Homo sapiens: one gene and its partners. The protein of the gene in region 4 interacts with the protein of the main gene of each other region in a pairwise test. Each region holds a gene or a part of one and is shown on either strand. Other genes may lie near its edges.

Evidence for each region.
Region 1: the proteins of SMO (region 4) and SLC41A3 interact in a two-hybrid assay, tested with the Homo sapiens proteins (one large-scale study listed by BioGRID and IntAct).
Region 2: the proteins of SMO (region 4) and NGEF interact in a two-hybrid assay, tested with the Homo sapiens proteins (one large-scale study listed by BioGRID and IntAct).
Region 3: the proteins of SMO (region 4) and GABBR1 interact in a two-hybrid assay, tested with the Homo sapiens proteins (one large-scale study listed by BioGRID and IntAct).

The regions. Positions count from the first base shown.
Region 1 is NC_000003.12:126,079,673-126,088,138, reverse strand, and holds the start of SLC41A3 (solute carrier family 41 member 3), read left to right. Parts: upstream 1-4,014; 5' UTR 4,015-4,046; exon of another isoform or gene 4,047-4,210; intron 4,211-8,466. UniProt on the Homo sapiens protein: Na(+)/Mg(2+) ion exchanger that acts as a predominant Mg(2+) efflux system at the mitochondrial inner membrane.
Region 2 is NC_000002.12:232,969,277-232,976,959, reverse strand, and holds part of NGEF (ephexin-1), read left to right. Parts: intron 1-1,995; 5' UTR 1,996-2,069; coding exon 2,070-2,337; intron 2,338-6,631; coding exon 6,632-6,746; intron 6,747-7,683. UniProt on the Homo sapiens protein: Acts as a guanine nucleotide exchange factor (GEF) which differentially activates the GTPases RHOA, RAC1 and CDC42. Plays a role in axon guidance regulating ephrin-induced growth cone collapse and dendritic spine morphogenesis.
Region 3 is NC_000006.12:29,617,768-29,625,450, reverse strand, and holds part of GABBR1 (gamma-aminobutyric acid type B receptor subunit 1 isoform a precursor), read left to right. Parts: intron 1-1,426; coding exon 1,427-1,561; intron 1,562-1,975; coding exon 1,976-2,146; intron 2,147-3,245; coding exon 3,246-3,347; intron 3,348-3,633; coding exon 3,634-3,699; intron 3,700-4,158; coding exon 4,159-4,350; intron 4,351-7,683.
Region 4 is NC_000007.14:129,205,422-129,209,417, forward strand, and holds part of SMO (protein smoothened precursor), read left to right. Parts: intron 1-188; coding exon 189-361; intron 362-728; coding exon 729-948; intron 949-1,042; coding exon 1,043-1,166; intron 1,167-3,337; coding exon 3,338-3,430; intron 3,431-3,867; coding exon 3,868-3,976; intron 3,977-3,996. UniProt on the Homo sapiens protein: G protein-coupled receptor which associates with the patched protein (PTCH) to transduce hedgehog protein signaling. Binding of sonic hedgehog (SHH) to its receptor patched prevents inhibition of smoothened (SMO) by patched.

The DNA of each region.
Region 1 (8,466 bases), on a different chromosome or scaffold from region 4:
TCTCCCTTCAGATAATTTTGTTAATTATCCTATAACTATTATTAAGTTACAGGAACCAACAAAAGGTGAAGGAGAGATCTATTATCTAAGGCCATTTCAAAAGAGAAAGAGCTGAGCTTGTGAGATATCAATCTGCAGAATGTCAAAGAGACAGATTATAGAGTTTATAAATTTAAAACTTATTACATTAAAAATAAGTCAATATTTGTAATAAAATACTGTTTTAGCCAATTATTTAGTTTTGTATTAGTGTATTTTTTAAATATCAAAGACCCATCTCTAGAAAGACTACTATAATTTCTTCTTAATCATAGCCAACTGCATTATACAATCTTTTTTTTTTTAAACAAATTCCTTTTACTAACCTTATTACAACTTACATAGACCATTCACAACATGCTTAAATTTTCTGTTCTGTCCTAAATATCTTTCTTGAACAACCTAGTCATTTTATTTTAGGACAAAAATTCGCTACACAAGATTCTTTCTTATATAGTATCACTTTCCTTTTTACCTTCTTTACCAAAAATTACCTCTTTATGTCTTATGTTTCTCTACATCTCTTATTTCCTAGTTCCTTTTACCTTGTTTTATACATAACCTTTAAATAAGCTTTGAATTAGAAAAAGATATTTACCATTTAAAAAAAAGTTTTTCTATAATTTTTAAATTGGAAATTACCCAGATACTTAATACTTATTAATAACCTGAGGTCCTAAATTATATGACGTTTGTTTACAAACACTTATTCCATTACCTTTACCTGATTAATTTATTTGTTTACCTGGATTATTAACAAAAACTGTGACAGTCATTATTGAAGTTATTTCCCTGTTAACCATTTTTATAGCTGTGAATTTCAGGTGTTTACTTCAATAATGAACTTATGATTAAATATAAGAGTATTTTTTCCAGTAACTCATGATTTAGCTGTTTTCATTAAACCAACCATATTCCATGTCTTATTTATCAAAAATTATACAAGCAAAGATCATTCTGTCTTGGGCTGGGTTTTATAGTTTTATAACCCTATGGCTAATCTTATAGTATTCTGAAGGAATAAGCATGAAGCTACTTGATCAATAAATGCAAACAAAAATACTAACAATTCTTAGAACATTTTAATTTTTTTTACCAATGATTTTAAAGACAGTTTATTTATTAAATATTTTACTTGTCACGTGAACTTGAAAAGCATTGATTAGTATTTTTTGATCAAGTATTTAAGTGCTTTTATTTTTACTTAAGCTAATTAGAGCTCTTTTACATATTTTTAGTAGTGACACATTGTGTACACAACACATAAATGCATAGCGTATTAGGCATGGCAATAGAAGTACATCTTATGTATTTGTAAGACCTCTTTTTCCCTTAGACTTTTAAATTCATGATAGCCTGTTTCATCACCCTGGGCAGTTGTCAGCTAAATAGTCCTACATTTGCATATTAAAGGAAACAACTCTTAGGTGAAAAATCAGATAGCAAAATTTACATCTCAAAGTACCAAGAGACAGTCTGGTTTGCTAGAGGGAAATTAAAATGGATTTAATTTGCCATTTAAACAAAATTATAGAAGTCTATTATAAAATCCTTTTAAATACACACACACACACACACACACACACACACACACACACACAGATCCTATAGCTTTTACTTCAGAACTTTAGCCATGAGATAAATACAAATTCCCCAGCTTGCAAAAAAAAAAAAAAAAAAAAAAAAAAAAACAAGAAAACAAAGAAAAAGAAAAATAGGTTAGATCCAAACAGTGGTTTTTAATTTCAGTACAAAAGTAAAAGCAGATTTAAAGCAGGCAGAAAATATAGAGAAGAAGAGAACTTAGGAACTCTATAGTGTACAGGTTGACCTTAGGGCTCTTTTCCTTAATGTAAATGTGCACAAGGATCATTATATTTCCATTTTACATAAGCTCTGGCAAGTAGACGCACCATAAAACCAACAGAGTGCCCGAAATGAGGTCATTCTCCTTGTTTTCTCCTCATTCTTAGATCATTTGTTTCCCACCTTTTTTTTTCTTAGAAGTAGGAACTGAGCTGTGGCCTAGGGTTTTTGTGTGGTGGATCAATGTGTGCTGCTTGTGGGCAGGACCCCACCATGTGTCACCACTGAGTTGTTTCCACCCTGTTACATGTCTCAGTTTCTCTCTCCAGAGGTCTATTACCTTTGAGAGGGCTCAAAATGATGGGTGATCAGTCCTTATATGCATTCCTGGACAAGCCATTTTTAAAATTAATTTTTGTTGGGGATTTCCCCATAGGGCTGCTGCATGTCACAGGATGTCAACCCCCCCCCAGACACTCCCACAAGGCCCCCAGTCACCCAGGAGCACGTTTTGGCTGGGAGGAGCAAATGCCTTTCTCTTTGGAGTTGAGAAAACTCAGTCTCTCATTTACCTATGAAAACAACAGTTCAATTCCTCACACAAATGCGCAGACAAGCCGAATCAAGATTAATTTTGGGAGAAAAAGCAATAAAGAAAACCCTTTAGAATGTGTCTCTGAACTAGAATTAGAATCCTTAAACAACAACTTCCTAGGAGAAAAACCAGCTCACACTAAACGAAGGACTGTCAACCAAAGGGCGATCTGGGGCTCAGGAGAACTTAACCAGTTCCATCGGGGGAGAAGCTAGAAGTCTGGGAGGCTTCAATGGGCCCCACTGGTATCTTCGCTCCGAGTTCAGGCAACTCCTTTGGGGTCCTGAGTCTTCTCTGAGGCCCCACGCTGGGTGCCAAATTATTGTGGAAGAGTCAAACTCTGTAAAATATTTGAAGAGATTTATTGTGAGCCAAATATGAGTGACCACAGCCAGTGACACAGCCTTCAGGAGGTCTTGAGAACATGTGCCCAAGGAGGTCGGGGTGCAGCTTGGTTTAATACATTCTGAGGAGGCATGAGACTTCAAGTTAAGTTCATTTAAGAAATAAATTTGTTTGATCCAGAAAGGCAGGAAAACTCAAAGAGGGGGAGGGTGGTTCTAGGGTATAGGTCAACTTAAACATTTTCTGGTTGACAATTGGTTGAGTTTGTCCAAAGACCTGGGATTAAAGAAAGGAATGTCTGGGTTAAGAGGTTGTGGAGACCAATGTGTTTTATCACGCAGATGAAGTATTCGGATAGGGTAGCAGGCTTCAGAGAGAAGAGGCTGTAAAATGTTTCTTATCAGACTTAAAGTCTGTGTTGATGTTAATGCAGGAGAGGGATAATGAGGCATGTTCGGCCTCCACTTCCCCTTATGGCCTGAACCAGTTTTTCAGGTTAAATTCTAAAAGTCCTGGCTGAGGAAGAAGTCCATTCGGATGATTTGGTGGTTGGGAACGGGGAGGTGCCTTATCATTTATTTTTTGGTTTAAAATATAATGATATATTTTACCAAGTCTTGTGAACCATCAGGCCTCCCTCAGGCCCGGACTGGGAATTGCCAATTTCGTTAGGTGTGACCGTAATACTATGAGAATGTTTAAAAAAATAGGCCTTACTGATTAAACATACTCGAGTATTTAAAGGAGAATTTATCCACTGGGATGCTTTAAAATTACTCTGGGAAAAAAGGGAAAACGAAAGGCATGTGTGGGGTGAAGCACAGACTTGTCGTTGTTGTTTTTAAAGCAAAAGGCGGGTCCCAAGGGAAGTTGGCTGTCGGTGGGTTCCCGTTCTCCGTACCTTTCTACCTTGACAGCTCCATAATAAAACCTGCAGCCGCATAGGCGCCTCTCCCGTAGCGCTCCCGCGGGGGCGCCAGTGGGGCCCCAGCTGCGAGGAGGGCCCGGGCTCGCGAGACTCGGTCCCCCACTTCCGTCCCCGCGATCCCCGGCTCCCAGCCCCCCGGGCCCCCGGCGGGGCTCTGCGCTGCCGGAGCTTGGGCGTCTGCTGCTGTCCCGGAGCGCCAAGTCGTCCGAGGTCCGGCCGCCCGGCCGGGGCGGGGCCAGGGAGGCCCGGCCTTCCCGCTTCCTGCCTGAGCCGCAGGCCCGCCCCTGCGTCCTCCGCCCGCCTCTTTCCCGCCGCCGCCTGGGAGGGGACCCGGTAAGCGCGGCCCTGTTCCGGGCGGGGTTGGGGCGGAAGGTGGGGTCAGCTGGGGCCCAAGGGGGGTCGGGGAGGCGCGCGGGAGAGGGCGCCCGGGAGTGGGTGCGCGGGAGGCGAGTGAGCCGGGCGCCGGGCCCTGGGGGCTCGGCGGGAGGGGGAGTCAGGTGGGGACCGGGATTTGGGGGACTCGGTGGGGGAAAGGCGCGCGGGAGATGAGGTAAACACGAGGGGTCGGAGGGGCGGCCTGGGGCGGGGTGGGGCCATGCCTGGGGTAGGCCACGCCTCGGGGAGGCCGGGAGAGAACCCAGGCGCTGGGGGTCGCGGGGGAGCCGGCCGGTCCTACCCTTAGGTGTCTGAGGCCGCTCCCCACACCGCTGCGGTGTGCATTCAGCGGCCCTGTCTCCTCCTTCCTGGCCTGCTCAGGGCACGGCTCCTGGTTGGATGTCACACGCGTGACTCCTGCAGCGCCCGCGCGCAGGGACCCCTCGCTGCCTCAGCCAGACCTCCCGCCAGCCTCTACCACAGGCTCAGCCCACTGTCCTGGGTGGGCTCGGTGCAAACCTCTGGTGAAGAAAACCTCCTGGGGGTGCCCAGCCGGGAGTCTGTCTCAGAGTCCCACACTCTCTCCATCCAGGAGAGCCGGTGGGATAGGTCTCTTTAAAATCCCGTTATTTATTTGTTTATTTTTTCCTCTTTCTTCCAGTTTTTTCCATATGACTTTAGTGATCAAATCCCACTTTTTTTTAGAAGGCTTTTTTTACACCAGTGGTTTTCAAACTGTGGTCCCAGGACCAGCAGCACTGCCTTTCCTGAGATCTGCTAGAAATGCGGGTTCCCCAGCCCCACCCTGACCTTCTAAATCCTAAACCTTGGGGGTGGGTCCCCATACTTGTCTTTAGCAGGTCCTCCTCGTGGTTCTGACCATTGATCTGAAACCTTAGGGCTTTGAGGAGTCTGAACTGGGGTTGAGGATGGGCCAGGTGCCCTGTGATGATAATGCATGACTCCATTTAATCTTCACAGCCCTACACAGTAGGTAGTATTACCCCATTTCACAGATTAGGCAACAGAGGTACAGAAAGTTTAATTTTTCCAAGGTCACAGACCTAGAAAGGGGAGGAGCTGGGATTCCAACCTTGGGTTCCGGCTCCAGAACATTCCCACTGAGGCGAGGTCCCCTGTGAAGGTGGGGAGGGGTGAAGCCCAGAGGTCCTGGCGGCCTCCCTGCCAGGCAGAAACCATTAGTTCCAGAATCACGACCAGCCAGGTGCGTGGTCAGCAGTGGCCCTGCCTGCCTGCCTTTGGGCGAGCCCTGGTCTGTGTGAGCTGCTGGGTCCAGGTCCCCGGGCAGGATGTGTTCGCACTGGGGTGCTGACGGGGCGCCTAGAGGCCTGGGTCCAAGGCCAACCTCACAGGGTGACACAGGGATGCTTCTGGGTGACAGAGTGTCCGTTTCCTCCTCAGTCTGATGGGGGCGGATACCCCCCAACCCCATGCTGGCAGCTGGGAGGGTGGGCAGCCTCACAGACTCAGGCGTGGCTCTGAACTGTGGCCCCAGGTGGTCCACAACCTGTCCTGCCCAGCCTAGCCCCTTTCAAGGCACAAGGGTCTCTGACCACTGCCCCATAGCAGGGTTTCTCGGCCTCCACACTACTGACATTTGGGGTGGGGCAGTTCTTTGTTTTGGGGGGCTGTCCTGTATCACCCCCTGTCGGGACAACCAAAACCATGTGCAGACATTGCCCAATGTCCTCTGTGGGGACCTTGGAGGCAATGCCTCCACTGGCATCTTCTGGCATCTTGGCTCCTCCCTGGGGCTCTGGGATTAGAGGTTTCCTGGCCCACAGCCCACTTTCCCACAGGAGCCTCCTCCAGCCTGTGCTTGGTTGTTCATCTGCACGAGCTGTCAGTGACACAGGGACATTGGAGCATGTTCTCCTTGCAAACACTCCAACATTCAGGTGGAGCTGAGGGGCCTTTGGCCATGTCCACAGCTGGGAGATCCCCCACCCTGCAAGGGGCACAGAGCAGGTGTGGTGCTGACACCAGCTGGGCCCTGCTCCCGGGTCACCCTGGCCAGGCCTTCCTCTGGCACCATGTGCAGGCACAGTGAGGGTGGACCAGGGCTGGGGCTCTCTAGGTACAGCTGCACACGTGTTCCCAGCATGAATCACGGATCAGGGCTGCGCCAGCACCTGCCGCTCTGGTGTTTGCTGTCACCAAGCACAGTGGCTGCGCACTCTTGGGTTAACCTCCTCAGGCACGCGTGTGAGTGACTCACCAAGACTGTGGCTGAGTGAGGATGTGTGGCCTGGAGTGGTCACTGCCCAGTTGCCTCTGGCAGAGGCAGACCCAGAGCCCTGTGGCTGTGTTCCAGGCCCTTCTCCCCACCCCTTGCCCTAGTGGTGGTGAGGTGAGGTGCATCACACCAGGTTCATTTATTTATATTAAAAAAATTTTATTGACACATAATAGATGTACATATTTTTGAGTTGCCTGTGATAATTTAACACGTTCATGTAACTTGTAAAGATCAAATCAGTGCAATATAGACATCCATCATTTTAGAGATTGGTCTTTTATTCCAGAAACATTTGAATTCTAGCTATTCCGAAATATAAAATAGATTATTGTAAACTATAGTCACTGTATTGATTCATCAAACACGATTTCTTATTTCTTCCATCAAACTGTGTATTTCTAGCCATTAACCATCCTCCCTTTTTCCCCCTGTCCCGCCACAGGCTTTGGTAACCATTGAACTTTCTACCTCCTTGAGATCCCCTCCTTCAGCGCTCACATATGAGTGAGGCCATGTGATGTTTGTCTTTCTGTCCACGGCTTATTTCACTGAATGTAATGACCTCCAGTTCCATCTATATTGTTGCAGATGACAGGATCTCATTCTTCTTTATGGCTGAATAGTACTCCATTGTGTATATGTACCGCATCTTCTTTATCCTTTCATCTGGTATGGAAACTTAGGTTGATCCATATCTTAGCTATTGTGAATAGTGCTGCAAGAAACATGGGGTACAGATATCTCTTCAATATCCTGGTTTCCTTTCTTTTGGATATGTACCCATTAGTGGGATTGCCGGATCATATGGTAGTTCTGTTTTTAGTTTGTTTTTTTTTTTCAGAGATGGAATCTCGCTCTGTTGCCCAGGCTAGAGTGCAGTGGCACAATCTCAGCTCACCACAACCTCCACCTCCTGGGTTCAAGTGACTCTCATGCCTCAGCCTCCCAAGTAGCTGGAACTACAGGCGTGTGTCACCACACCCAGCTAATTTTTTGTATTTTAGTAGAGATGGGGTTTTGGCATGTTGGCCAGGCTGGTCTCAAGCTCCTGGCCTCAAGTTATTCTCCCACCTTGGCCTCCCAAAGTGCTGGGATTACAGGCTTGAGCCACTGCATCTGGCTTGCTTTTAGTTTTTAAAGGAACTTCCATACTGTTCTCCATAGTGGCTGAACTAGTTTACATTCCCACTAACAGTGTACGAGGAACACTTTCTCCACATCCTTACCAGTGTCCATTATTCCCTGTCTTTTTTATAAAAGCCATTTAAAATGGGGTGGGATAATATCTCATTGTGGCTTTGACTTGCATTTCTCTCATGATTAGTGATGTTGAGTACTTTTTGCATATATGTGAGCCATTTATGTCTTCTTTTGAGAAATATCTATTCAGATCTTTTGGCCATATTTTAATTGGATTTTTTTTATATTGAGTTGTTTGAATTCCTGGTACTATATATTCTGGTTATTAATCCCTTGTGAGATGAGTGGTTTCAGATATTTTCTTCCATTCTGTGGGTTATTTTTTCACTTTGTTGTTTCCTTTGCTGTGCAGAAACTTTTTAGCTTGATGTAATCCCATTTGTCTATTTTTGCTTTGGTTGCCTGTGTTTTTGAGGTCTTACACAAAAAGTCTGCCCAGACCAATGTCCTGCAAAATTTCCCCAATATTTTCTACTAGTAGTTTCATGGTTTTAAATCATATAAGCCTTTAATCTGTTTTGATGTGATTTTTTAATATAGTGAGAAATAGGGGTCTAGTTTCATTCTTCTGTATATGGATATCCTGTTTTTCCAGTCCATCTATTGAGGAGACTGTCCTTTCCCCAGAGTATGTTCCTTGTGCATTTGTCAAAAATGAGTTGGCTATAAGTGTGTGGATTTATATCTAGGTTCTCTCTTCTGTCCATTGGCTTATGTGTCTGCCAGTACCATGCTGATTTGGTTACTACAGCTTTGTAGTATATTTTGAAGTCACTATGATGCTTCAAGCTTTATTCTTTTTGCTCAGGATTGCTTTGGCTATTTGGGGTCTATTGTAGTTACATATAAATTTTAGAATTGTTTTTTCTATTTCTGTGAAGAATGACATTGGTATTTTGGTAGTGATTGCATTGAATC
Region 2 (7,683 bases), on a different chromosome or scaffold from region 4:
CCACCGCACAATCCTCTCTGGCCACCTGAAATAGCAGCGTTGCTTTCTAGTTGGAAGGGGCTTCACCGACCCCATAGTGCACACTCCAACTTCATGGATCAGGAAACTGAGGCCGGGACCAGAAGGGTCAGGTATTGCTGGGTCCCCCAGACGACCGTGGTGGGGAAGGCACTCCCCAGGTCCCCATGAGCTCAGGTTGTGCCCCTGCACGTGGCCCAGCTGCTCTGAGGCAACCTCTGAGTACGTTAATGCTCATTTCTGCCTGGCTGACAATTTACAGGGAAGGTGGTTAATAGAACAGGATCAGCCCTGCAAGCAGGTGGGAAGGAGGTGCCATCCTAGGGCAAACCTTCTGATACAAACCTGTGTCGGAAGTAGCTGGTTCTAGGAACCAGAGTGGCCTTCAGTCTTCAAATCCCCCTACCCAGAAAGTCCTAATTCCTATCTTAGGTAAACGAAGGCATTCTCGGCCTGGGGTAGGGGAAACCCAACCTCCTGACTATTCTGCCAGACCACCTGCCCTGAGATCAGTAGTGTGGGGCTGGCTGGTGGGTGTAGAAGAAGGTGTTTGGGAACTCAGAGGGACTGTGGAGGAAGAGGAGTGGTGCGGTGGGAAAGGAGGCATCTGAAACCCAGCCCTCCATGCTCCCCATTTCACAAAGGAAGACACAGACAAACACTCCTGATGAATCGTAGAACACTGGTTGAGCTGGATGTTTGTGGAAGGGAGCAACAGAAGAGGACTGGAAGGGTTTTTTTGAGATGGAGTCTGGCTCTGTTGCCCAGGCTGGAGTGCAGTGGCAAGATCTCTGCTTATGGCAACCTCCACCTCCCAGATTCAAGCGATTCTCCTGCCTCAGCCTCCCGAGAAGCTGGGACTACAGGCATGTGCCACCAAACCCAGCTAATTTTTATATTTTTAGTAGAGACAGGGTTTCTCCATGTTGGCCAGGCTGATCTTGAACTCCTGGCCTCAGGTGATCTGCTCGCCTCGGCCTCCCAAAGTGCTAGGATTATAGGCCGGTGCCTGGCCAAGTCTCTGACCATTTTGAAGGTATGATGGAATCTCTGGACCGATAGGCCAGAAAAATGTATATGCTCATACACAGCCTTGTACCCTGAAAACCTCCATAGAATCCATGTGACCCCAGGTTTCAAGCCCTCAGATGAGTGGAGAGCTGAGAAGAATTCCTAGCTCGGCCTCTCTGTCTAACACGCTGTCCCACCAGCTTAGACCCACTAAGAGGGTCCACATAGTCTCTCGCCCTGAGCACCCCTACCCTAGGAGGTCTTTGTGGGGAGGGAGGTGGGGTTTGTTCCTGTTGTATCCCCCTTTTCCTATGAAAAGTGTCCTCGTTCAGATGATATGCTATATGGTCACCCCAGAGGGAGGTAACCATTCTGTTTCTCCAGCCCATGGTGGGGTGGCCATGGGATGGGGGGACCTTATTCTTCCACCACGGCCATACATCATTCCATCAGAAAGGCCACTAATGCACCCACTAGACTTGGTTGCCAGCTGATGGCAAGGTTTGTCGCCTTGGGGATCAACCTTGCCCATGTCTAAACTTACCATTGTGAGACCTTGCACCAGCCCACAACCCTTTCTCATCTTCTGAGACTTTCTTTTCCTGTCTAGACATTTACGGTCCCTCTCAATGCTTTCCTGGAATTCCCTCACTATTTCTGCCACCCTTTTTCTCTGGAATTATTTAAGAAGTATTTATTTGAATGTAGTTTTGCAAGCCACTTTAAACATTTCCCCCTAAAAGTGCCTCTTAGGAATAATGTAAACAAACGGCAATTATAAAATGATACGTGAATGCCTCCAAATTGCAGAGATTAAGCTGTAATTTTCAGTGGCGAAGACGTGGATACCAGGATGTGCAGATTATCCCACGTTTCATCAAATTCGAATGGGAGTGGAGTTCCACAGTCTGAATAGAATACTTAGCCTGATGACTAACTGAAAATTGTTTTCTATCTATTCTAAAGCACTCAAACCAGTGAAGCTTGGGAAAGTCATTGACCTCCAGTCGTTCTGCTGAGAAACATCTGGCTCTATTTCCATGGAGACCAGGGAATCTGAAGATTTGGAAAAGACCCGGAGGAAATCAGCAAGTGATCAATGGAACACTGATAATGAACCAGCCAAGGTGAAACCTGAGTTACTCCCAGAAAAAGAGGAGACTTCTCAAGCTGACCAGGATATCCAAGACAAAGAGCCTCATTGCCACATCCCAATTAAGAGAAATTCCATCTTCAATCGCTCCATAAGACGCAAAAGCAAAGCCAAGGCCAGAGACAACCCCGAACGGAACGCCAGCTGCCTGGCAGGTCAGTATCAGGGACAGCTGTCACGGCTGTTCCCTTACATCCAACTGGAGTCATCAGTGCTGAAAGGTCCTCATTAAATGAGAAAGGATAAGTGGCATTGAAAAGTACCAAGGACAGTTTCAACAGGGTAGTGCATTTTAAAACCATTATCTAAAGAACCCAAATTCCTCCACTATGATGACGTGTGTACTTAGGAGAAAGGGTTGACCCAAATTAGACAATTAGACTGGCTTCTACTGAAAAGAGATTTCTTGTTCTAGAACTCAGCAAAACACCCCTCGCTGTACATGCATTCTAGGAGGGAGACTTAGAGCCATCCACATTACGGGTCATCTGAGAACATGAATTGTCTCGGTGATGAGGTTCTGTCCTGTTCTCTCACTGTGACTGCCATAGCCAAAGCTTCTGCTGCTCTGAAAATAAATGAGATTAAAACCTTGGGAATAGATTTGCAGCAAGACTTCTTAATCTTTTAGACCAGTGCCTAGCACATTTTATCTGCTCAAAATATATGCATTGAGCAGAATAAAGTTCAGAAAACTTTACAAATGGGGTGTTGGTGCTACAGACTCTTTTCCTTGTGACGTGCTCCTGTGGTTGACAGGCAGCCTGCTGGGGGTGAAGAATGTGTGACAGTTTCCCAGCCCGGGAGGCACAGCAGCTGCCACCAGACTATATATGCTACCCTGAGTGTGCCAGAGTGGCAACCCCTGCTAAATCCAGAGACTTCATCAGTGCATTCAAAAACATTCATTAAACCCTGTATTGGGTAGCTGTTTGCCACACGTTAAACTCCCCTCAAAATATAGAGACTTAAAACAACAATATTTATTATTTCTCATGATTCTGGGGGTTGGTTTAGTGGTTGCTGTGTCTGGGCCAGTTTACCTAACCTCTGCAGTCAGCTGGTGGCTCTTCTGGGTTTGGAAGGTGGAGGACAGCCTCACTCATCTCTCTGGTGGTCTGTGAACTGGGACTGCCTGCCTCTGCTCCACGTGGTCTCTCATCCCCCAGCAGGCTGGCCCAGGCTTATGCATATGGCAGTCGGGTTCTGAGAGAGCAAGAGCAGAAGCTGCCTGGCATCTTGAGGCCTAGACGGAGACTCAGACCTTGCATAGTCCCTTGCACCATGTTCTGTCAGTCAAACCAGCCCACAGGGCCAGCCCAGACCAAAGGGGTTGGGGAAATTGACTTCACCACTCCACGGTGGTAGAATCTGTGGCTGTTGCCATCCACCACAAACACTAACAAAATCATGTATCAAGCACTGAGTTAAGCAAGAAAAATACAATGATTGAAATACTATCGTCGTGGAAGCTCAACTTTTCCATATGTTTGAAATTTCCCGTATACTAAAAGTTAAAAGCACATTCTCACACACGAGGAAGCTGGGGTCTCTGCCTTTGAGGAACCCACAATATTGTAATGATGTCATTTTAATGCAAGCCATGTGTGAAAGTTTACAGGAGAGATAAAGGCAAAGCATTAGACCCTTCTGCTGGGGTTAGGAAAGGGCTTCCCAAAGAAGATGATATTTCAGATGAGTCTTGACAAATGGGTAAGGACGGCCGGGTGCAGTGGCTCACACCTATAATCCCAGCACTTTGGGAGGCCGAGGTGGGTAGATCATCTGAGGTCAGGGGTTCGAGACCAGCCTGGCCAACATGGTGAAACTCCATCTCTACTAAAAATACAAAAATTAGCCGGGCATGGTGGTGCATGCTTGTAATGCCAGCTACCCAGGAAGCTGAGGCAGGAAAATCACTTGAACCCAGGAGGCAGAGGTTGCAGTGAACCAAAACCATGCCACTGCACTCCAGCCTGGGCAAAAGAGTAAGACTCCATCTCAAAAAAAAAAAAAAAAAAAAAAAAAAAAAAGGATAAGGACATGGCTGGGGAGAAAGTGGGAGCAGGCTTGGTTGATTTCATGCAGGTACCCGGTGGCTGTGCTAGTTTGCTAGGCAGGCATTTCAAGGGTATTCTTACCATACCCATTTTACAGATCAAAAAATAAACAACTGAGGCCCACAGAGATTGAGCCACTTACCCAGAATCACACAGCTATTGTGTGGTACAGACTGAGCTAGAGTTCAGATCCTTCTGGCTCCAAAGCCTGTGTAGATGGAGAAGGGGGTTACAGTAGCGCCATCCAACAGAAATATGCTGCAAGCCACATACATCATTTTAAATTTTCCAGTGGCCACATTTAAAAAGTACAAATAAATGGGTGAAATTAATTTTAACAATGCATTTTATTAACCCAGCAGATGCAAAAGCTACCATTTTATCCTGTAGTTAATAATCAACATAAAAAATATCGATGAAATAGTTTACATTCCTTTTTTTTGCATGAAGTCTTTGAAATCTGTTGAGTATTTTATATTTGCAGCCCCTCTCAATTCGCATGCCAAATTTTCATTGGAAATACTTGATCTGGAATTAGATTGCATAAAATGTACAGTCAGAAAAGTGGATTTACATACCCAAATTGATCCAAATACCCTTAAAAGTTTCCCAACAACTGAATCAATATGAGTTTGTACTTTTAAATGTAAATTACATTAAATAAAATGAGAAATTCCCCTCCTCAGCCACATTTCAAGTGCATAATAGTCACACGTGGCTAGCGGCCACCCTGTTGGACAGGGCAGGGGTAGGGCACTGTAAGCAGACAGAAAAGCAGCTGCAGCTGCCAAGGTTGGGGGTCGGGGAAGTCTTTCAGGGTTGCAAGAAAAGGAAGGTGTAGGGCTGTGTCTGGGATGAAGCTGGGGAGGGCAAGAGGGCCGCTGGGGAAAGAGCCTCGAGTTTGTGACCTCCCCAAGCTGAGCCAAGGATGCTGACACCAGATAGACAGAACAGTGCCATCCCCAAAGGTGGCCTTTATGTCCAGCCATAAATGTTTTCATCAGATTTGCAGGGGTTGTTTGTTTGTTTGAGATGGAGTCTCGCTCTGTCACCCAGGCTGGAGTGCAGTGGTGCAAGCTCACTCAGCTCACTGCAGCCTCCACTTCCTGGGTTCAAGCGATTCTCCTGCCTCAGCCTCCCAAGTAACCGGGACCACAGGTGTCTGCCACCATGCCCGGCTAATTTTTGTATTTTTAGTAGAGACAGGGTTTCACCATGTTGGCCAGGCTGGTTTCGAACTCCTGACCTCAAGTGATCCGCCCACCTCAGCCTCCCAAAGTGCTGGGATTACAGGCGTGAGCCACCGCGCCTAGCCTTACAGTTTTATTTTTACAGTGACTCCTTCATGTCACCTCCTTGGAGCGAATTCTTTTGACTGCTCAGTACTTCCTGATCCAAGAATCCAAGGAGAAAATGTCGTGCTTGACCTACATGGTGAGAAAGAGCACGGGGTGGGGGCTGGGGAAGAGAAGGAGCAGACAAAATGGGCTACTGGGTCACTCCACAGCCACCAAAGAAGCTCATGATCTGGAGTCACGATGTGTGATTTGGGTCTGGAAGGTGTGGGACATTCTCTGTTTCATCTGCAAAATGAGTACCCCTTCAAAATCACAGCAGATCATTGCCTAAAAATCCCACCCCCGGGTGAGCAGACTTTCTGGGGGAGGCTAACTGGACTTATTATTTCATATTGATTAGGACTTGGGAATTGTTAGATGCTAAAAAAATTGGCAAGTTGCCAGTGATTTTTGACCAGTAGAAATAACACCAATCGTTATGGTTTTATTGCCCTGTAAATATTAGCCAGGTTTGTATTCTTATTTCCAATATCTTTTTTTCCACTGACTACGTATGTATGTTTATGTATATGTAAATGTATATGAAGTTGCTTAAATCATCATTATAATTTTCTTTTTTTTTTTTCACCCAGGCTGGAGTGCAGTGGCACGATCTCAGCTCACTGCAACCTCCGCCTGCCAGGTTCAAGCAATTCATCTGCCTCAGCCTCCCAGGTAGCTTGGATCACAGGCATCCGCTACCACACCCGGCTAATTTTTGTATTTTTAGTAGAGACGGGGTTTCACCATGTTGGCTATCCTGACCTCAGGTGATCTGCCCACCTTGGCCTCCCAAAGCGATGGGATTACAGGTGTGAGCCACCGCACTCGGCCCATAATTATAATTTTCATAGGGATGGCATCCCAGGCCATCTGACACAGCATGAGGTGTGACAAACTCCCCTTCAGGGAGTGAGGGGAGGGACACCCCTTCCCACTCTGCTTCCTCCACCTTCCAGCATGACTGCTGCTACTGTCCTAGGCTTACAGAGAATTGCCTGAAAAGGGTTGATCTGTATCTTCTAACTTGCTCCATTTCTGAATTGTCACAGATTCACAGGACAATGGAAAATCTGTAAATGAGCCCCTGACCTTGAATATCCCCTGGAGCAGAATGCCTCCTTGCAGAACAGCAATGCAGACAGACCCAGGAGCCCAGGAAATGAGGTAAGAGATGGCAGATCATGAGGAATGCTGGTCTGGGAAAGATGCATCAGAGGTCATTGCTGCAAAGACTTGACAGGGTTACGAGGGTGTCATGTTAAAAAAAATAATAATAACTTTTGGTTGCCCGTGCTAAAAAAATAAATAAATAAAAACTCCATAATTTAAAAAAAACTTTTGTTTTGTACAGTAATTTTTTAAAAAAATATTTGTGGGCAGTGATGTGGTCTTGCTATGTTACCCAGGCTGGCCTCAAACTCCTGGGCTCTAACGATTCTCCAGCCTCAGCCTCCCAAAGAGCTGGGATTACAGGCACAAGTAACAAAAAAACTATTGTTACTCCTCTGACAAAACTAGGAAATTTTGAATACTACATATATTAAGAAATAGAATAGAAAAATCACAGCCGGCGTGGTGGCTCACACCTGTAATCTCAGCACTTTGGGAGGCCGAGGCAGGCAGATCACTTGAGGGCAGGAGTTTGAGACAAGCCTGGCCAACATGGCAAAACCCTGTCTCTACTAAAAATACAAAAAACAAATTAGCCAGGTGTGGTGGCACTCGCCTGTAATCCCAGCTACTCGGGAGGCTGAGGGAAGAGAATCGATTGAACCCGGGATGTGGAGGTTGCAGTGAGGTGAGATAGAGCCACTGCACTCCAATCCTGGTGATGGAGTGAGACTGTCTCAAAAAAATGAAGGAAGCAGGGGAGGGAGGGAGGGAGGGAGGAAGGAAGGAAGGAAGAAGGAAGGAAGGAAGGAAGGAAGGGGAGGGAGGGAGGGAGGGAGAGATAGTTCACTGTATCTTGGCCAGGCAGAGCAGCTTGTGCCTGTAATCCCAGCTCTTTGGGAGGCTGAGGCCAGAAGATTGTTTGAGCCCAGGATTTTGAGGCCAGCCTGGATAACATAGCAAGACCCCATTAAAAAAAAAAATCACTGTA
Region 3 (7,683 bases), on a different chromosome or scaffold from region 4:
TAAGAAATCAGGAAACAAAATGGGGGGCATGCCTTGCCCTGTTGATATGTATCTTATATGTTCTTGTATGTCCTCATTGTTCCTATTAACCCTGTCTTTAGAGAAGTGGAGGGGCACTGAGGGGCTGTGGGAGAAGCTGGGAGCAGGATCTGGAGTAATAGATGTGGGGAGAGTGCAGGAAGGTGGGTCCTGAGAATGGTAAAGATTTACAAAGTTGCCCTAGTGGGAGGCATAAAGAGAAAACCTTCCAATGTTGTTGAGCACTGCCCTTGGCCAGAGTGAGGGTAGGGTGGGCAACAGAGAATTCTCAGTGACTGCTGGTTCTTCAGATTCCAACAGCTTCCCCTGGCTCCCCCTTCTCCAACTTCCCACCGTGTCCCAAATGTCAGGCCTCAGTGGGAGGTAAGCAGGCTCCAGAGTGCTTTCTTTATTTCCTTTCTACTTATCCTCCCCTCCTGGCAACATTTCACCCTCCTTAGTCCCCTGAGCCCCCTGTCTGTGTCCCCTCTGCCCTGGCTCCCCACTGGCTGCCATTTCGTCTTCACATGCATTGGGGTTCCAGCAGCTTCTGAAATGTCATATATCAGTGGGAGGGGAACAGGCAGTGGGAGACCCAAGGCTGGCTCTTCCTCCCCCATTTCCCCTCCTCCCAAGCTTCCTTTCTTCTCCAGCTTTCTGCTTGTTTACTTTCCCTAGCTCCAAGCCTCTCTTTAAGGCACCTCTCAAATTGTCTGGTTTCTTGAGAGTTCCATTCTATTCATTCTCTCTGTTCTTTCCTCATCCTACATTCTTCCCTACTTCCACCCCCCAGTGTCTTTTTTTCTAATGGACCTGTCAAATGTCAGCGCCCAGCAGGAGGGATGGATCACTGAGCGGGACCCCCTACTGGTCTTGTTCCTGTTCTCTCTTTACTTATCACTAGCTCTGAAAAGAGAAGAGGGAGGAAACAAATGGAAGGTGGGGAGAAGGGGTTTGCAGAGGTGAGGAAGGAATTTTCATAATATGGCTTTGAGCAAGCTATCTGGGGATGTGGAAAGAGTTTACCGTATTCCTACTGACTTCTTCCACCCACTGGTGTTTGAAGCATAGAAACATGGGGTAAAGGGCTTGGTGACAGAGGGAAGGGGGATGTCTGAGGGTGAGCTGAAAGGAGGTAAGGTGGTATGTTCATTAATACCAAAGGAGGGGTGTGCAGGAGAGGTGATGGGTAAGGCTCCAGATGGAAGACAGAGAAGGAAGTTTAATGAAAGAGGAGAAAAAAGGCACTTGACAGGAAGAGATGCCAGAAAGGAGAAGAAAACGGTAATTAATGATGAAAGTGAGTAATTGAGAAAGGAACTAATTTGTTCGAGAAAGATAAGAGCAGGAATTGCAGACAGGGGAGGGGCCCCAGGAGAGCTTGCCCTCATCTCCTCTTGTCTTTCAGTGTGATCCAGGCCAAGCCACCAAGTACCTATATGAGCTGCTCTACAACGACCCTATCAAGATCATCCTTATGCCTGGCTGCAGCTCTGTCTCCACGCTGGTGGCTGAGGCTGCTAGGATGTGGAACCTCATTGTGGTAAGCAGGGCTATGGGGGTCAGAAGATGGGGTCATTCCCTTTTGAGCTCTACTGAAGGGACGATGGCGATTGTGGGTTTGTATTGAAAAGGAGTGTGGAGGACCTGCTACTAAGATTCAGAGTCCTCTGCAGACCTGAGCTAGGCAGCCTCCTAGCAACAGTGGCCTGACAGTGCTGCAGCTGACCTCCTTCTTCAGAAGGAATTGAAATTAGATCAGTGAAAGAGCATCCCGGTTGTGAGGGGTGTGTGGGCCTTTGAGAATCTCTTTTCCTTAGGCAGACCAGAGGTGGGGAGGTTTGGAGAGAGTAAGGAAGAGAAACCCAAAGGCAGGAAGAGGGTTAAAGGAACTCTTGGCCACTCTTGGTGTCCTCAGTGAACAGACCCTGTTGCACTCACTCTCCCTGCCCCACAGCTTTCCTATGGCTCCAGCTCACCAGCCCTGTCAAACCGGCAGCGTTTCCCCACTTTCTTCCGAACGCACCCATCAGCCACACTCCACAACCCTACCCGCGTGAAACTCTTTGAAAAGTGGGGCTGGAAGAAGATTGCTACCATCCAGCAGACCACTGAGGTCTTCACTTCGGTGAGGAGGGGTTGGGCAAGGGGTAAAGGGACATAAGCTCAAATTCCAGCACCAGGAGATGTGACGTGAGAGTCACTTTTAGGGGCAAGAACTTGATTCTTCATTGAAAGAGAACGCATTCCATGTGGATTAAGTGCAGTTCTTTCTGTAGCCAGGGGAAAGAATGAGTTGAGTTTTTGGGATCCTCTCTGTCTTTATGATTTTATGATTTTTTTCCCCTGTTTGATGCCCTGTTCCCCAGACATATAGACCCAGAATGACTCAGTTCTGTTAAAGTAGGTTCAATCCAAAGTGGGGGCAAGAGATGGGAGCGAAGATGAGATAGGAATCCAGGAAGGCAGCAGATTCCAGAGGCTTTCAAGGGGGGTGGTGGGTGGGTGTGAATGGGAACAGAGGGGATGGAGCCAGTGGATTACAGAGGAGAGAGGGAGAGGAAAGAGAGAGAGAGAGAGGAATGAGGGAGAGGAGAGAGAGGGGCAGAAAGGCAGCTGCATGGATCTGGTAGTTGGTACTAAGAGAGAGAAGCCGACAGACAAGGAGAGGTTGAGGGGGAAGAGGGAGATTTGGGGAGGTAGAGAGGAAATACAGGCTCTACATCTGAAGAAGGCAGTCTGCTCCCTCCCTTTTATTCTATTCTTTGGGTCTTCTATCCACTGTGTTCAGTGGCCCTTTAATCCTCCCCCACTTTCACTCTGATTCAGACCATTCTTCTCTGATCCTTTGTCTGTCTGCCCATTTGCCTCTTGAGGTTGACATCATGCTGTCTGTCCCAGTCCTTGCCTTGTCTTTTCCTGGTTCCTTTATGTTTCTTTACCCCATCTTTGCCTTCAGTGGTAGGAGTGGGTGAATGGAGTGGCTTCCCCCACACAGAGCCTCAGCAGGGGCTCACCATTCACCTTCCCACTTGGAATCCACATCCTAAGACCAGATGCCTTCCCGAACTCCTCACTTCAGGGACAGAAGCTGTTGAAGGAAGGTTCAGAATGGCTGCTTCTTTGCTCTATCTGAGTATTGCTCTGAAATCCCCAGTTAACCTCTCTGGTCTTTATTCCCTCATGCACCCCGTGTTTTTCCAACTTGTTTTTTATTCCCACCCAAGACTCTGGACGACCTGGAGGAACGAGTGAAGGAGGCTGGAATTGAGATTACTTTCCGCCAGAGTTTCTTCTCAGATCCAGCTGTGCCCGTCAAAAACCTGAAGGTCAGATGGCTGGGAGTGGTGGGCTCTGTTTACGGAGGGACCAAGCTGGGGGACAGTGACTGGTTGGAGAGGAAAGCCAGGCGGGGGCAGGTTTTGATTCTCTGAGGCAATAGCATCTCCTGGGGAAGTTTAGCTCCATCTTCCAGTTGACGTTTATTCACTATACGTTGAGCGTTACCCTGCACTAAGCACTTTGGGATGGGAAATCAAAGCTGTGAAGACATCTGGCTTAGCCCCTCAGGCATTCCCGGGCATCCCTCAGGAGCTGTTTCTTTCTCTGTTGTAGCGCCAGGATGCCCGAATCATCGTGGGACTTTTCTATGAGACTGAAGCCCGGAAAGTTTTTTGTGAGGTGGAGTTGGATCTGAAGAGGGAGGGGCACTGGGTGGGAGTTTCCCTTGGTTTTCTTGTGGGGCCTCCTCTTGGCATCTGTGCCTGAGTTGATAGCATATGATCTGAGGTGACGATTCATAGGATGTCTCTGTCTGTTGGCTCTGACTGCATCCCTTGTCTGCACACACATGATACTTTCTTCAGATCTCATTTTTCTACTGCTTTGTGTTTCCTGAGAAGCCCATGAATTCCATCTGTCCTGACTGGCTGGAAAAGGCCACTCAGAAATACAGGGGCTGGGGAGAAACTTAGAAGGAAGAATTGTCAGCCTTTCCTACTATCCCCAAGACTTGTAGATTTCTCTTTTTAGTTCTACTGCTCTTCCCTGATTCCCAAGAGGCTAAATAGTATCAAGTGAGATAAGACAAAAACAAACAAATGAGCAAACAAAAACTCAGCCATTCTCCTCTGTATTCAGGTGTACAAGGAGCGTCTCTTTGGGAAGAAGTACGTCTGGTTCCTCATTGGGTGGTATGCTGACAATTGGTTCAAGATCTACGACCCTTCTATCAACTGCACAGTGGATGAGATGACTGAGGCGGTGGAGGGCCACATCACAACTGAGATTGTCATGCTGAATCCTGCCAATACCCGCAGCATTTCCAACATGGTGAGAGTGTGGGGACTTGCAGTCTGGCACCTGGGAGGGTGGAGAGGACTGAGGGGGCCTTGCAGGGGAAAGGGTGGCAGGGAGAGGGTGCGGAATTTGGATATAAAGGAGAAGAGGGGGCTGTGCCCACCCTGAACTTGTCTGCATTATGTTTCCTGTGGATCCTACCTTTGCTCTGACTTCCTTGGGTAGAGAGAGAAAAAAAAAAAAACGATGGAGTTGTATGTTCAGTAGGTTCCTGATGAGTGGAAGGGCTGTTACCATGGAGACGAGGAGCAGTTGGTGAGAAGTCAGGAGGAACCGGCATTAATGATAATATGGATGCTTGTATACTCAAGCACACCTTTACAGGAGCACTGTGTCTGGGCAGAATTGCATTTCATTTTCTTGGTGATTTATGTTAGTGTTTTAGAGTTGCTTAATATTCACTCATGATTGATATGCAATTAGCTTGGATCCTGTTGCTTTTTTTAATGATTCTTTTTTTAGAATTTTATGTGGAGAAGGGGCTTTTGAAATCATTTAGCCCCAGACAGCTGGTTAATGACAGACTTGGAGCGAGGAGGCGCATTCTCTGATTTGAGAGGGCTGGGGCAGCCCTGCAGCTGAGGGGCAGAAGTGAGTGTGGGTGTGGGCACAGGGGAAGAGGCTTCTTTGTTGCTCAGCACTACATTGTAAAGAGTACAGGAATTTTGGGTAAGCTCGATACGGCCACCTATGTGTCTGCTTATTACACCAAGTGTGTACCTGCTTTGGAGAGCATGTTAGGGGTGAGTTAATGGTTGTAAAGCCCCAAAATAGCTTGATTTAAAAAGTTTTACTAACAGTGGCATTTGTGTGGTACTTAGATTCATGATTTCAGGGATTCTAACAGCAAAACTCTGATGTGGACTTATCTACATTTTGTAGACCAGGAAAATGAGACTCAGAGTGGTTTAATGACTTGTCTCAGGTCATGCAGCTACTCAGCAGTCCAGCTGGAATTGAATCCTAGTTAAATCTGGCTCCAAACTGCTCTGCTCATCACTTCCCATGGAAAACCATGAAGCCTGACTAAAAAGTTTGTACTTTTATCTGCTAACACTGTTTAGCTACTGGCAATTGCTGAGCAAAGGAGAAATAAGATTTAGGAAGTTGACTCTGGTGGTGTGTTGTGATGAAAGATCTGCTGCCACATGGACTCTGATGATACACACTGTTTTGGGACATTCTAAATGGACTCTATGTTTTAAGGTATGTTAGTTGAAAAATACAATGAAAAAATTTTGGAAGATCACTTTCCTGTAGAGTACCCAAGAGGTGAGTCATCCATAAAACCTGGGAAAGTATTGGAACTGGCTACCAAAGCCAGAAAGACTTGTTGGTGCCCTGAGCCCAGGACTTGCCAATCGTTGCTTCTGTCTTATAGCAGGGAGCTAGAGGAGGCTGACAGAAAACAGGGATTTGGCTGGATCTAGTGGCTCACACCTGTAGTCCCCAGCACCTTGGGAGGCCAAGGCAGAGGATCACTGGAGCCCAGGAGTTCAAGACCAGCCTGGGCAATATAGTGAGACCCCCAGCTCTAAACAAAAAGAGAGAGAGAGAGAACAGAGAGATGGTTAGGGACATAGAGGGACACCTGAGCATTGGGGTGGGAAGACTTGGAAGGTCCCTTTCTGACTTTGTGTCTAGAGAAAGATGGTTCCTGCTTTTGAGGCCATAGGGCTTCCAGTGGGACCAGCCTAAAATGCCAGTGGGGAAGCCAATGTTTTCTGAAGAGGATAGAGCAGTCTTAACAATAGGTTAGGGGCAAAAGAGATTATAGATTAATCAAACAGCACAAATAGAAGTGGATCAAAGCAAGGGTTGGACCTAGGGGGCCGGAGCCATGGAGACTTAGAAAAGAAGCAGAGTTGCTTTTATTCCCTAAGGATGGCCTTATGTTTAGATCAATAGTTCTCAAACTTTAACATCCGTCAGAACCACCTGGAAAGGTAGTTAGTTCACAGGTTATCAGGCCCTTCCCCTGGAAATTCTGATTCAGTAGATCTGGGCTAGGGCCTGAGAACTGACATTTCTAGCAAGTCCCTGGGGATGCAGATGTACTGGTCTGGGGATCACACCTCGAGAACTATTAGTTAGGGTAGTGGTTTTCAACTACTACCCTAGACTCAGACGCTATACTATCTGGAGGCATTTTTGGTTGTTACAGTTGGGGGTAGGGGATGGGGAGGGATACATGCTCCTGATATCTAATGTGTAGAAGCCAAAGATGATTCTAAATATCCTACAAAGCACAGCCCCTGGCAACAAAGAATTATCTTGCTCAAAATGTTAATAGTGCAGAGAATGAGAAACCCTAGTTTAGAGAAAACATCTTTAGGGGCAATATGTGGAAATGGAGAGTGGGTTAGAGTGGTTTTAGAGAAATGTAGCTGTGGGCTAGAGGGGAATGTGGGAGGTGGCATCCTGGAGATAAGATTGTGAGGAAATCTTGATTGGGGTAGAGATCCCATCAGACCTAGGACCAGTACAAACTAAAAAGCTACCTCAAGATATACATTTTAGCCCACTGTCAAGCATCCATTCTTGAGAGCCAGACAAGGCTGTTAAAAAAATTAGGTATAAATTTGCACTTGGTTGATTAACTAATTGCTGTGGGTTGAGGGGTCTTTATTGTTCAGATTTCCTTAAGCTGCAGAGTAGAGTGTCTCTTTGACAATCTATAACTGTATCTTTACTGACTCAAGGGGGAAGCATTCTACTCTTCTTTACTCTTGGGGTGGCAGGAGCAGTGGTGCCCCCAGTGGTTAGGCGTGTTAGTGGTAGTGACCTGGCGTGAGCACAGGGTCTGACCACCTGAGCAGGGGACCGCATCGTGCTGAGCAGATTAATCCCTTTCTTTCTGGGTGATTTTTTTGATGCCATATTTACCTTGAACTGAAGATTGGATAGACCAATCTTTCAATTTGAAGCCAAAAGACTACTCAAAGTATTAGCCTAGCTGCTATTTGTGCAGGTGCTCTTAGAGAGAGGCAGTCTCATGTACAGAGACTGTGTAGGGTGGCTGGTAAGAGTATGGATTAGCTCTGCTACTCATTAATAGTATAACTTTTTTATAGGCAAGTTATATAACTTTTCTGTGCCTCAGTTTTCTTATCTCTAAAATGGGGATAATAACACCTCATTGGATTGTTTGAGGATTAAATAAGGTAATATAGTTTCCTCAGGAAAATGCTCGATACGTCCTAAGGACTGTATACATGTTAGCCACCATCATCGTTATCATTATCATCATCATCCTGTGTAAGGAGGGATCGATATCAATGAAACATTTCAACAAAAGAGTTAAGA
Region 4 (3,996 bases):
GGGAGGGCAGGCCCGGGGGGCCCTCAGCCTGGAACGTGGGAAGAGAGCCAGAGGGAAGGGGGGCAAAGAGGTCTTGGTGGGGGTCCCCAGGGAAGGGTCATGATCAGAAGGGTCTGGGGCTCAGTTAAGGGTGTCTGTGTCAGCAGAATAACCCTAACCTCACAGAATGGCCCACTTCTCTCTTCTAGGCCACATTCGTGGCTGACTGGCGGAACTCGAATCGCTACCCTGCTGTTATTCTCTTCTACGTCAATGCGTGCTTCTTTGTGGGCAGCATTGGCTGGCTGGCCCAGTTCATGGATGGTGCCCGCCGAGAGATCGTCTGCCGTGCAGATGGCACCATGAGGCTTGGGGAGCCCACGTAGGTGTCTTGGGGACCCAGAGGTGAAGGTACAGGGAGGAAGGCTGAAGTGTGCGTTTACCCCAAAGGGAGCAGGTGCGTGTAAAACCGAGATCCAGGGCAGGATCTGGCTCTGCCCTACTGCATACTGCATGCAAGATCTCCAGTGTTAGGATCTTAGTTTCAGAATCAGGACCTTCATGGTTTGTATCTGCTCAAAGGGGCGGCTCCTAGAGCCTCCTCAGATCTGACCTGGGTCCTGTCTCCAAGCCCTGACTTCTGGGAACCTCCAGACCTCAGCAGCTGAGGGTCTGGGCACAGGGTGGGGAGACCAGGTAGAGGGAGTACAGAGTGACCGCCTCAAGTGACACCTCACCTCTCTGCACAGCTCCAATGAGACTCTGTCCTGCGTCATCATCTTTGTCATCGTGTACTACGCCCTGATGGCTGGTGTGGTTTGGTTTGTGGTCCTCACCTATGCCTGGCACACTTCCTTCAAAGCCCTGGGCACCACCTACCAGCCTCTCTCGGGCAAGACCTCCTACTTCCACCTGCTCACCTGGTCACTCCCCTTTGTCCTCACTGTGGCAATCCTTGCTGTGGCGCAGGTATAGTGACTGGTAGGAACGGGAGACCTGGATGGGGTGAGTTTGAGGGAGGGGGCCAGTAACCCACCTTCTGTCCCACCCCTTCCTGCTGCAGGTGGATGGGGACTCTGTGAGTGGGATTTGTTTTGTGGGCTACAAGAACTACCGATACCGTGCGGGCTTCGTGCTGGCCCCAATCGGCCTGGTGCTCATCGTGGGAGGCTACTTCCTCATCCGAGGTGAGTGAAGACCAGGCCAGGACCAGTTGGGCAACAAAATATACTGGGCACTTGCTGCCAGTACTGGGAGCTGCCAGCACGGCTGCCCCCATGCTGAAACCCCAGCTAGCTCCTATAGGGCCTTCACACAGTAGAAGGTGACCCTCTAGGCAGACGAAACACCGTGAGCACTTGCTGCGGGACAGCACCTTTGTACTGGCCAGAAAAATCCATCCCTCTCTCCAGGGCCTTGGCCCAGGGCTCACAGCTTGTTTTTTTTGTTTGTTTTTGTTTTTGAGACAGAGTCTAGCTCTGTTGCCCAGGCTGGAGTGCAGTGGCACAATCTTGGCTCACTGCAACCTTCGCCTCCTGGGTTCAAGTGATTCTCCTGCCTCACCCTCCCCCATAGCTAAAATTACAGGCATGCACCACCACGTCTGGCTAATTTTTGTATTTTTAGTAGAGACGGGGTTTCACCATGTTAGCCAGGCTGGTCTTGAACTCCTGACCTAAAGTGATCCACCACCTCAGCCTCCCAAAGTGCGGAGATTACAGGCATGAGCCACAGTGCCCAGCCTCACAGCTTGTTAGGTGGAGTTGGGTCAGGATCCAGCCCCAGTCAGCTCCTGGCCGGTGCACTTGTGTGATGAACACCCTGAGTAACCTACTCTGCCCACTTGGACCAACCTAGGTCGTTTGGTTATCTGTGTGCACATTAATTCGATATGTACTGTCAATCTTCTGGAGCTTGGTTTTCATCTTCTTTCTGTCCCCGGCACACACAGCTCTCACAGCATGCGTGGAATTAGTGGTCCCTAACTTTCCTGTCTCATGCTGCCATCCCATAGTAAGCCTCAGCATCTATTTAGCTCATTGTTGTTGGGTTTTCTTTGTAAACCTCAGTTTCCTCACCCTGAACTGCCAGCCTTCTGTTCAGTCACCTCTTTCCCCTCTTTTTGGCATAGTGTCTGGCCCTCTGATTTGTGCTTCGTTATCATGCTGTCCTAGTATGGTAATCACTAGCCACATGTGTTGAACTAGTCCAGCCTGGGTGCGGCGGCTCACTCCTGTAATCCCAGTACTTTGGGAGGCTGAGACGGACGGATCACTTGAGCTCAGAGTTCGAGACCAGCCTGAACAACATAGTGAAACCCCATCTCTACAAAAAATACAAAAGTTGCCTGGGCAGGGTGGCACATGCCTGTGGTCCTAGCTATGTGAGAGGCTGAGGTGGGAGGCTTGCTTGAGCCCAGGAGGTTGAGGCTGCAGTGAGCCATGATCTTGCCACTGCACTCCAGCCTGAGTGACAGAGTGAGACCCTGTCTCCAAAGAAAACAAGACAACAACAAAAAGAAACAAGTCCAAATTGAGATGTGTTGTAAAATGTGAAATACACACTGTATTAAAAAAAAAACTTAGTGGGAAAAAAATGTAAAATATCTCATTAATAATTTGTTACATGGATTACATGTTGAAATGATTTTATTTTGAATATATTAGGTTTGTAAAATATATTGATATTAGTTTTGCTTGTTTCTTTTAACTTTTTTTAAGTGGCCACTAGAAATTTGCCATATGTATGTGGCTCACATATTTCTATGGGAAGGCCGGCATGGTGGCTCACACCTGTAATCCCAGCACTTTGGGAGGCCGAGGTGGGCAGATCACCTGAGTTCAGGAGTTCAAGACCATCCTGGCCAACATGGTGAAACCCCATCTTTACAAAAATACAAAAATTAGCCGGCGTGATGGTAGGTGCCTGTGATCCCAGCTGCTTGGGAGGCTGAGGCAGGAGAATTGCTTGAACCTGGGAGGCGGAGTTTACAATGAGCCGAGATCACGCCATTGCACTCCAGCCTGGGCGACAGGGTTCCATCTCAAAAAAAAAATTATATGGATAGCGCTGTTCTTGAGTCTGTTTTATGTCTTTCCCATCAGAACAGCTTTGATCTGCCCCCTTCTTCAGGGGCAGCTGGGCCACGACCGAGGCTCCCTCTTCTCAAGTGTCTGTCTAGGCTCTGCCCTGGTCTTCTCACCATTTCTCCAGTGTCTCTAGCTCCCCAGGTTTTCATTTAGCACAGGGGTAATCAGACTTGGGACTCCAGAGCCTTAGGACCCTCCTCCCACTCACCCATCCTTCCCAGCAGGGCAGCCTCACCCCTGCTAATGTCTGAGGTCCCCCTTCTGTTCAGGAGTCATGACTCTGTTCTCCATCAAGAGCAACCACCCCGGGCTGCTGAGTGAGAAGGCTGCCAGCAAGATCAACGAGACCATGCTGCGCCTGGGTGAGTGGCCCCGGGGGACTTCGGTCTGAGGTCCTGGCCAGCCCAACACTGCACCCTCCTGGGGCTATGCGACCGGCAGGATGCAGTAAGTCAGTGGGACAAGTTAGCCATAGGGACAAGGACAAGGGGTGTGTGTAGGTGGTAGTGGTAGTGGCAGCTCAAAAGAAGGGGGTCTACTCGGGGGGAAGAATTCAGTCAAGTTCATGCCGGGACTGGTTCCTCCTGCCCACTACGTCCCACGTGGTCCCTCCCACAGTTGCTTCAAGTGCCCTTCTTATTTTATTTTAGAGAAAGCAGTTCTTGGACTGAGCCCAGCATGAGTTCACCCCAGCCCCAGCTGGGTGAACTTTGAGGCCCAGTGGGGCAGACTCTCTCCTCCCCACTGCTGCTGCGGGACTGGGCTTGGTAACGTCCTGTCCTGCCCCTGTCCTCCACAGGCATTTTTGGCTTCCTGGCCTTTGGCTTTGTGCTCATTACCTTCAGCTGCCACTTCTACGACTTCTTCAACCAGGCTGAGTGGGAGCGCAGCTTCCGGGACTATGTGCTGTGAGTGAGGGGCATGGAGG